Homo sapiens: one gene and its partner. The protein of the gene in region 1 purifies or fractionates together with the protein of each later gene. This does not show direct contact. Each region holds a gene or a part of one and is shown on either strand. Other genes may lie near its edges. The genes, in order: SULT1E1 and AGL.

What was found.
Region 2: the proteins of SULT1E1 (region 1) and AGL fractionate together in Homo sapiens (co-fractionation; one large-scale study listed by BioGRID). This does not show direct contact.

What each region holds. Positions count from the first base shown.
Region 1 is NC_000004.12:69,857,312-69,861,615, reverse strand, and holds the start of SULT1E1 (sulfotransferase 1E1), read left to right. Parts: upstream 1-1,470; 5' UTR 1,471-1,567; exon of another isoform or gene 1,568-3,962; 5' UTR 3,963-3,971; coding exon 3,972-4,116; intron 4,117-4,304. UniProt on the Homo sapiens protein: Sulfotransferase that utilizes 3'-phospho-5'-adenylyl sulfate (PAPS) as sulfonate donor to catalyze the sulfate conjugation of estradiol and estrone. Is a key enzyme in estrogen homeostasis, the sulfation of estrogens leads to their inactivation.
Region 2 is NC_000001.11:99,856,606-99,860,430, forward strand, and holds part of AGL (glycogen debranching enzyme), read left to right. Parts: intron 1-3,825. UniProt on the Homo sapiens protein: Multifunctional enzyme acting as 1,4-alpha-D-glucan:1,4-alpha-D-glucan 4-alpha-D-glycosyltransferase and amylo-1,6-glucosidase in glycogen degradation.

The DNA of each region.
Region 1 (4,304 bases):
ATAAAGTGAAGCTATGCTGCAAGGTTAAAAATTATATTCTGTATTAAATTTGTATATATATACTTAATTTTTAAAGGTACATAGTAGGCATATGAATGAGTAAATTTGTACATTTAATGATTGTTTTTCAACACATATTTTATTTAACTCAAATAATATGACAGACTGCATAAAACAAAGTAAAATGAAAATCTAAATTTGGGTCCCTGGTTACTCCTTTTCTACCTTAATTTTCTATTATGAAAAGCCCCATTTTTCAGAAACCACTTAACACCTCTTATTTTGCATAAGGCTAGATATTGCTTTCTATAACAACTATAGCCCCCTTAACTTCTTATATTTCTTGAATAAATCAGCCACTTTTATTCAGTAAATACATATTCAATGCCTAGCCTACTAGATGCCAGAAAAAAATGCTAATTACAGAGTAAGACCCTGTTTTCAAGCTATTTATAATTTAAAAAGTACTCTGGACAAGCAAACATTGATTTACAACACAGTAAAATAAATACTAGTTAGGAGAAAGTTCAAAGTTTAAAAGTCACTAAGAGAAACATAGAGTCTTGTAAGAGTGAGCCTCTCAAAGGAAATGTAATCTAACAGTAATTAATAGAGAAATAAGAAATAACAGGGTTGGAGGTGTTGATGGGGTGGAGCAAAGGATAATTTTCTTAAGTGACAGAGTAGGTGCAGAAAAATGAAAAGAAAGGTAATGCATTTGTGGATTCCACAAACCCTTGGCCATTTATTTTTCTAATTCTCTTGTGTAAATTCCAAGTGTTGGTAGCTATCATTACCTGAAAAATTCACAGTATGCTATTTTGTGGTTGGGAGCAGAGAGAAGTCAGGTTTCTAAAATAATAATCGAAAGGTGAGTGATGTTTACATTCTTTCTTTAGCTGTCATCTGCTTTTTAAAATTTTCAGGTCTGCTTAAGAGTTAAAGGCAAAGAGTTTAAATAGGTGTTTTCCAATTGACATGTTAAGATACAACCCAATGACTTCTTTGGCAGGTCTTAATAAACTGAGCTAGGTCTGATTGAGGGTCCTTGCTGTCTTATTTCTTTCCTCATTGGCTTCTCTTTCTTCACTCCAATAAGTTTATTCTTTTGAAAGTTAACCATAGTCATGCTATTATTTGTCAATGAGTGAATAAGGGATTCTCCCTTCCCAGTCTCTCTTCCCAGGCCTCTTCTTTCTCATCTTTTCCTTTTCTCCCTCCTTCTTCCCCAACCCCTGACGGCAGACTTGGGAATTTGAATATGAGCCAAATAATTAAAAAAATAACAGCAGGATATTTCTACATCTCCATGAATGAACATGACTCTGTGTGGTTACTGCAGCTGCAGGTATGCATTTACATCTACATTAACTATTGCATCATGGACTTCATGAAGCCAAGCCCCCAAATTAATCTCCACCTCCTTCTCTGGCATTCAGGATATAAACTCACCAGAAACATTCCAAATGCAGAAGTGGTTCTCATCTTTTTTTGCAGCTTAAGATCTGCCTTGGTATTTGAAGAGATATAAACTAGATCAATTTCTTTCACAGGATCAACTAAACAGGTTGTACTTTTTTATTATTAATATCAATACTTAGATTTTAGATATATAAAATATAGAATGAAAATTATGTATTACAAAGCTCTTAAAAATAAAATATACAAAGACCAAAGTCTTGATTGATACTTTAGTTAATTAATGATGTGAAGCATTTAAAACCTTTTAAAATAATTTGTTGTTAAAAATAATATTTTACATTTATGTAGTATTTTGTTGCTTATTGCTTTAATGTAAAATTACAGTACCATTGCTATCTTAAAAGTGCTGAATGCTGGACGTGTTCTCCATTTTACCAATGAGAAAATAAAGCAAGCAGGGTAGAAGGAGGTAGAATAGAGATTGACTTTTAGTTTTGTGTTCCTGTGATAAGGGGTCTTGCAAATAGGGGCATTACTTTCATGTAAGAAACTTCAGATAAATATGACAGAAATCCAAAGTCCTTGGTAAATAATTAATATGTAGGTCATTGACATATATTGCCTTTTAAATCTGTGAATCCTTACTTAGTAGAAACTAGAGAGCTTCTTGATCTAATAATTGAACTTAACAAATATTTCTGAACATCTACTTTGTGTCATAGTGCTGGAGATTGGGATAGAAACATGTACAAAAGTCACTTTGCCCTCATACAGGTAAATCTAAGAAAGTAGGGACTATGAGAACCCTATGTATCTATATCCACCATAGTATTCTAGCACTGACTACAGGGCCTAGGAAAAGGGTAGGCATTCACATAGGGAGTATTTGCTGGATAAAAGGCAGGTTGGAAGATGCAGGAGGGGAGTATGCAGAAAGAAAGGAAGAAAGAGAGGAAGGAGAGCGGGAAGGAAAAACACTTTCTGAGTTTAATTGAATTTATAAGTCACAATTTTAACAACTTTTTTGATGTTTATTTCTGAACAACTGACCTACATACTCAGAATAAAAAATTGACAATTTCTAACTGAAATAGATCTTTTGAGAAAATGGGGATCACATAGGAAGTAAATCCATACATTGTAATATGAGACAATTTACCAAAAGGAATAGAATGAGAAAAGATATTTTATTACATGCCACCTACTTTGCCTCTCAGACCAAAATTGACTATGAAGGAGTAGCTGGAAGTCAGCCAACCACTTAATGATAAATCTACCACTCCCAGCTGACTATAAGCCAATTCTTATAAACTTGGCTGAACACCAAGAAAGTAATTCACATGAGTAAGCAAACCAATAGGCAGGACAAATCGTGGTGCATTTTATACACATTTCTTCTAGTGAAAGATCTATTTTCTGAGACTAAGGAGAAGGCTTGGGGAACAAGTGATTTATTGATAAGGCTAATATGCATTTTGGAAATAGAAATCTCATATTTTTGGTGACATTACATCTGATATGATGTAGAGGAAGGTTTTTTAAAAGTTGAGATTGTCCTAAGGGCTGGGGCAATTTATGTGTGTAGAAGAACTTATCAGGCAGGTTTTTGGGCAAATGTGAACAGGAGGAAGATCTAGAAAGGCTAATGTCAGGAAAGACAAAATGTGTTGGGAAGCTATGTCAGAAACTTGAAATAAGCTAAGTTTGGCAGTTGAAAAAACAAGATACTAAAGGAATTTGAAAGCTAATGAAAGAAAGTATGCCTAATTAAAAATTCTGTTAGTAACCTTGAACATGAAATAGATTGTCATGGGATCAGGAGATGAATTAGGAAATGATAACCATCTTGCTTAACCTTATCATTTTTAGCCAAGTCATTCAATGGGAGTATCCACTACCTTATTGATCGAATGGGGAAAAAAGTAATTTTAAAGGTCACAGAGGAATCCTTTATACTCTCAAGATTCCATTTCTTTGATATAACCATTACAGTGTAATTAATTTCATCTTTTCTTTTAAATACATTCACCAAGCATTTGGTTTATTTAAAAAAATGATACATATTCAGGAAGTCAAAAATCTCTGACTTAGATACCCGGCAATAATAATCAAATGTAATGATCTTTATTGTTATTTGACATATACATAATTGGATAATTTGCTAAAATAACTGTAATTCTGGACCTCTTTGTCTTTTTATATGCCCCAGCAATTTTGAAAGAAATTGAAGGTTCTGTGGTTTTTATTTATCACGGAATAAATATAATTGAATATATCCACATTTTTATTTAGTTTTAAGCATTTTACTTCATAATCACTTGTGCTTTCCTATTCTTTTATGTGTTAGACATCTTTCTAATAAGGTTAAAAACTCTCTATGTACCAAAACTATTTGATATGCAACTTTACTATGTTTTTGCCCCATATGTGCAACAACTAAGAAGTGCTAGGTATGTAGGAGGGTCCCGTTATATACATAGTTGTTAATGGTGAAATATTGTTAAGTACATACAAAGTATAAAGCAGAGGTTTTTTTTCAGTGTACCACAATGAATTCTGAACTTGACTATTATGAAAAGTTTGAAGAAGTCCATGGGATTCTAATGTATAAAGATTTTGTCAAATATTGGGATAATGTGGAAGCGTTCCAGGCAAGACCAGATGATCTTGTCATTGCCACCTACCCTAAATCTGGTAAATCTCTTTGTTGTTCTTTTTTCACCTAAAAATAACAAACACACTGTAAATGGTAAATATTAAGGTGTTCATGTCGTACACACTCATTCTCTATATTAAGAACAGATGCGGTAGTTTTGATATGGACATAGAAAAGGTAGCTCTATTCCATGACCACAATTTTTACCTGTAACTTGAATAGTACA
Region 2 (3,825 bases), on another chromosome or scaffold:
TGTGTCCCTGGGTACTTGAGATTAGGGAGTGGTGATGACTCTTAGGGAGCATGCTGCCTCCAAGCATCTGTTTAACAAAGCACATCTTGCACCACCCTTAATCCATTTAACCCTGAGTGAACACAGCACATGTTTCAGAGAGCACAGGGTTGGGGGTAAGGTCATAGATCAACAGCATCCCAAGGCAGAATTTTTCTTAGTACAGAACAAAATAGAGTCTCCCATGTCTACTTCTTTCTACACAGACACAGCAACAATCTGATTTCTCTATCTTTTCCCCACCTCTCCCCCTTTTCTATTCCACAAAACCGCCGTCGTCATCATGGCCCGTTCTCAATGAGCTGTTGGGTACACCTCCCAGACGGGGTGGTGGCTAGGCAGAGGGGCTCCTCACTTCCCAGTAGGGGCGGCCAGGCAGAGGCGCCCCTCACCTCCCGGATGGGGCGGCTGGCCGGGCAGGGGGCTGACCCCCCCACCTCCCTCCCGGACGGGGCGGCTGGCCGGGCAGAGGGGCTCTTCACTTCCCAGTAGGGGCGGCCGGGCAGAGGCGCCCCTCACCTCCCGGACGGGGTCGCAGCCGGGCAGAGGCGCTCCTCACATCCCAGACGGGGCGGCGGGACAAAGGCGCTCCCCACATCTCAGACGATGGGCGGCCGGGCAGAGACGCTCCTCACTTCCTAGATGGGATGGCGGCCGGGAAGAGGTGCTCCTCACTTCCCAGACTGGGCAGCCGGGCAGAGGGGCTCCTCACATCCCAGACGAAGGGTGGCCGGGCAGAGACGCTTCTCACTTCCCAGACGGGGTGGCGGCCGGGCAGAGGCTGCAGTCTCGGCACTTTGGGAGGCCAAGGCAGGCGGCTGGGAGGTGGAGGTTGTAGTGAGCCGAGATCACGCCACTGCACTCCAGCCTGGGCAACATTGAGCACTGAGTGAATGAGACTCCGTCTGCAATCCCGGCACCTCAGGAGGCCGAGGCTGGTGGATCACTCGCGGTTAGGAGCTGGAGACCAGCCCGGCCAACACAGCGAAACCCCGTCTCCACCAAAAAAATACGAAAACCAGTCAGGCGTGGCGGCGCGCGCCTGCAATCGCAGGCACTCGGCAGGCTGAGGCAGGAGAATCAGGCAGGGAGGTTGCAGTGAGCCGAGATGGCGGCAGTACAGTCCAGCCTTGGCTCGGCATCAGAGGGAGACCGTGGGGAGGGGGAGGGGGGAGAGGGAGACCGTGGGGAGGGGGAGGGGGAGGGGGGAAGAGGGAGAGGGCTCTTTTCTTTTCTCTCTACCTGTTTTAGTTTTTTAAGTCTGTTATATGTTAGCAACATTGAATTACGTTAATATATGAATTATGCTCTCAGTTTGTATGTCAGATAAGTTACAAACAAAAAAGGCATACTCAGAAGAAAACGTAGAGGTTGTAGGTCTGGAAGGGGTTGACAATCACACCCTCATTTGTTTGCAGTATGTTGCCATGCATTGCACTTTTACTTAAGCTAGGTTAAGTAGCTTTACGGGTTATATTATCTTAAATAACAGTCTCTATATTACTTTGTAAGGAGAGGTAGAGTAACCAAGAATAGTTCTTTTACCTCACAGGAGTGATCGAACTTAAAAGATGAGTTAGAAAGTGTTTGAGATTCGTCCTTTTCAGAAATAACAAGTAGCATTAGATAGTATGATACTTAGAAAATATTTTCAGAAAAAATAAAAACTTAAGTCTTTGATGTAAACATGAGTGAGAAAGTTAAGTGCTTTTTTGAAGGAAATTGATGCTTGGAGCAGAGTTTGGCACATATTTTCCTGCAAAAGTTCAGATCGCAAATCTTTGCAGCTTTTCAGGCAATGCACTCCCTATTGGAGCGACTCAACTCCCATTGTAGCAGGAAAGCAGCCATAGGCAAACATACATGAATGGATGTGGCTGTGTTCCAGTAAAACTTCATTTACAGAAATGGGGATTAGGCTGGATATACTTTGCCAACCCTTGCTATAGTGAAAGCATTTTGAATATATATTTTTAGAAATGCTTCTTTCATCATTATATGATTTTACCCAAAATAAGTAGAACTTGAAATCTTTGAATCACTTTATTACAAAATATTAAAACCAAGACTTTTTAAAATAATGAAATTTATTTAGTTACATTTTCACTGAGAGATATTATCAATATTAATTTTTAGTGAGAGCCAAAAGGTTTTTTCTACCCACTAATAAATAAAATGTATTATTTAAATATTATTTATTTCATTTATATCTTATCCCATTAAGTTAACTTTTATATTTTATAATTTACATAATCTATGAGAACATCATACATATATATTATATAAATAAATGACTTAGCTTGGGAATTATTGGGGTTTTTTCCTGAAGGTAGAGCACTGATCCAAATACTGTTTTGGAGATTTTAGATGAGTTTTAACCTTTGCTCTGCAAGTTCTCTGAATACTTGTGTAATTATAAAAACAGTATTTGTATAAACTTAACAGGGGACAGGTTGTACACATATACCCAGACAGCTAATCTCTGCTGTTTGTACTTGTTCAAAATGACACTATTTCTCCTAAAGATAAATTTAGTCATTCTTGTGAGATGTAAATGTTTATGCTTCTCAGTCACTAAGTATTTTACTTCATGTTTTAATTCTTTCTGTAATTATTTCTTAGTCTATCCCTTCATAATTGTAGCTCTAATTTTAAAATGTTTTCCCTAATTATAAAATTATGCAAATGTATAAAAAGCATTTTTTCTGTGTTTTTTTTTTAATTAGGATTATACTATCTAAACAATTTTGTAACCTGCCTTTTTCCCGTTTGTAGTAGTATTATGGTGTATGTACTCTACCTCCCTGCCTACTGCCATGTTTCAGCCATACTTTTTTCCAGAAGATATTTTAAAAGCTCTACATAAATGTGTACAATGTAACAAAATAGAATAAATTAAAAGTGGTTATTACATTTTTTTTTTAATGGAGTCTTGCTCTGTCACCCATGCTGGAGTGCAGTGGTGCGATCCTAGCTCACTGCAACCTCTGCCTCCTGGGTTGAAGCAATTCTGCCCCAGCCTCCTGAGTAGTTGGGATTACAGGTGCACACCACCACACCCAGCTATTTTTGCGTTTAGTAGAGATGGGGTTTCACCATGTTGGTCAGGCTGGTCTCAAACTTCTGACCTCAGGTGATCCTCTCGCCTCGGCCTCCCAGAGTGTTGAGATTACAGGCGTGAGCTACTGTGCCTGGCCAAATGTCTTTTGATAACATGATTTATAATGGCTTTACAATATGCCAGCTTGTAGATTTACCATAATTTATTTAATCACTGCCAATCATTAGATATTTAGGTTGTTGTCAGTTTATTTCATTTCAATAAATGAGGCTGTGATAAATATCCTTATACATAATCTCTGTTTACATCACTGATACTTTTCTCAAAAAATCTATATAAAATTCCTAGATCAAAAAATATAAACATTCTTAATATATTAATGCCAAATTGTATTATAGAAAAAGTACATTTAGTTGCTTAGAGAAGAAATTCTTAGTTTCACTATAGAGCATTCTCTTAGTGTCTTTTACTGAAATCTTTTGTTCACAGAAAATATCCCTGTTAGTATATCCTCTTTTATTACTTTGTTGGATGTTTAATAAGTCAAGGATTATAAATTATAAATAATATATATTAAATAGGTAAATATTAGTTTTTTTCCTCTCAAAGAAATTCCTTAGATATTAAAGATTTTACTCAGTGGAACTAAACTTTCCTGCCTCATCAGTTATTATTGCCCATTATTAATTGAAAGTTATATTCGTGTTTAAAATTTATATGTATTA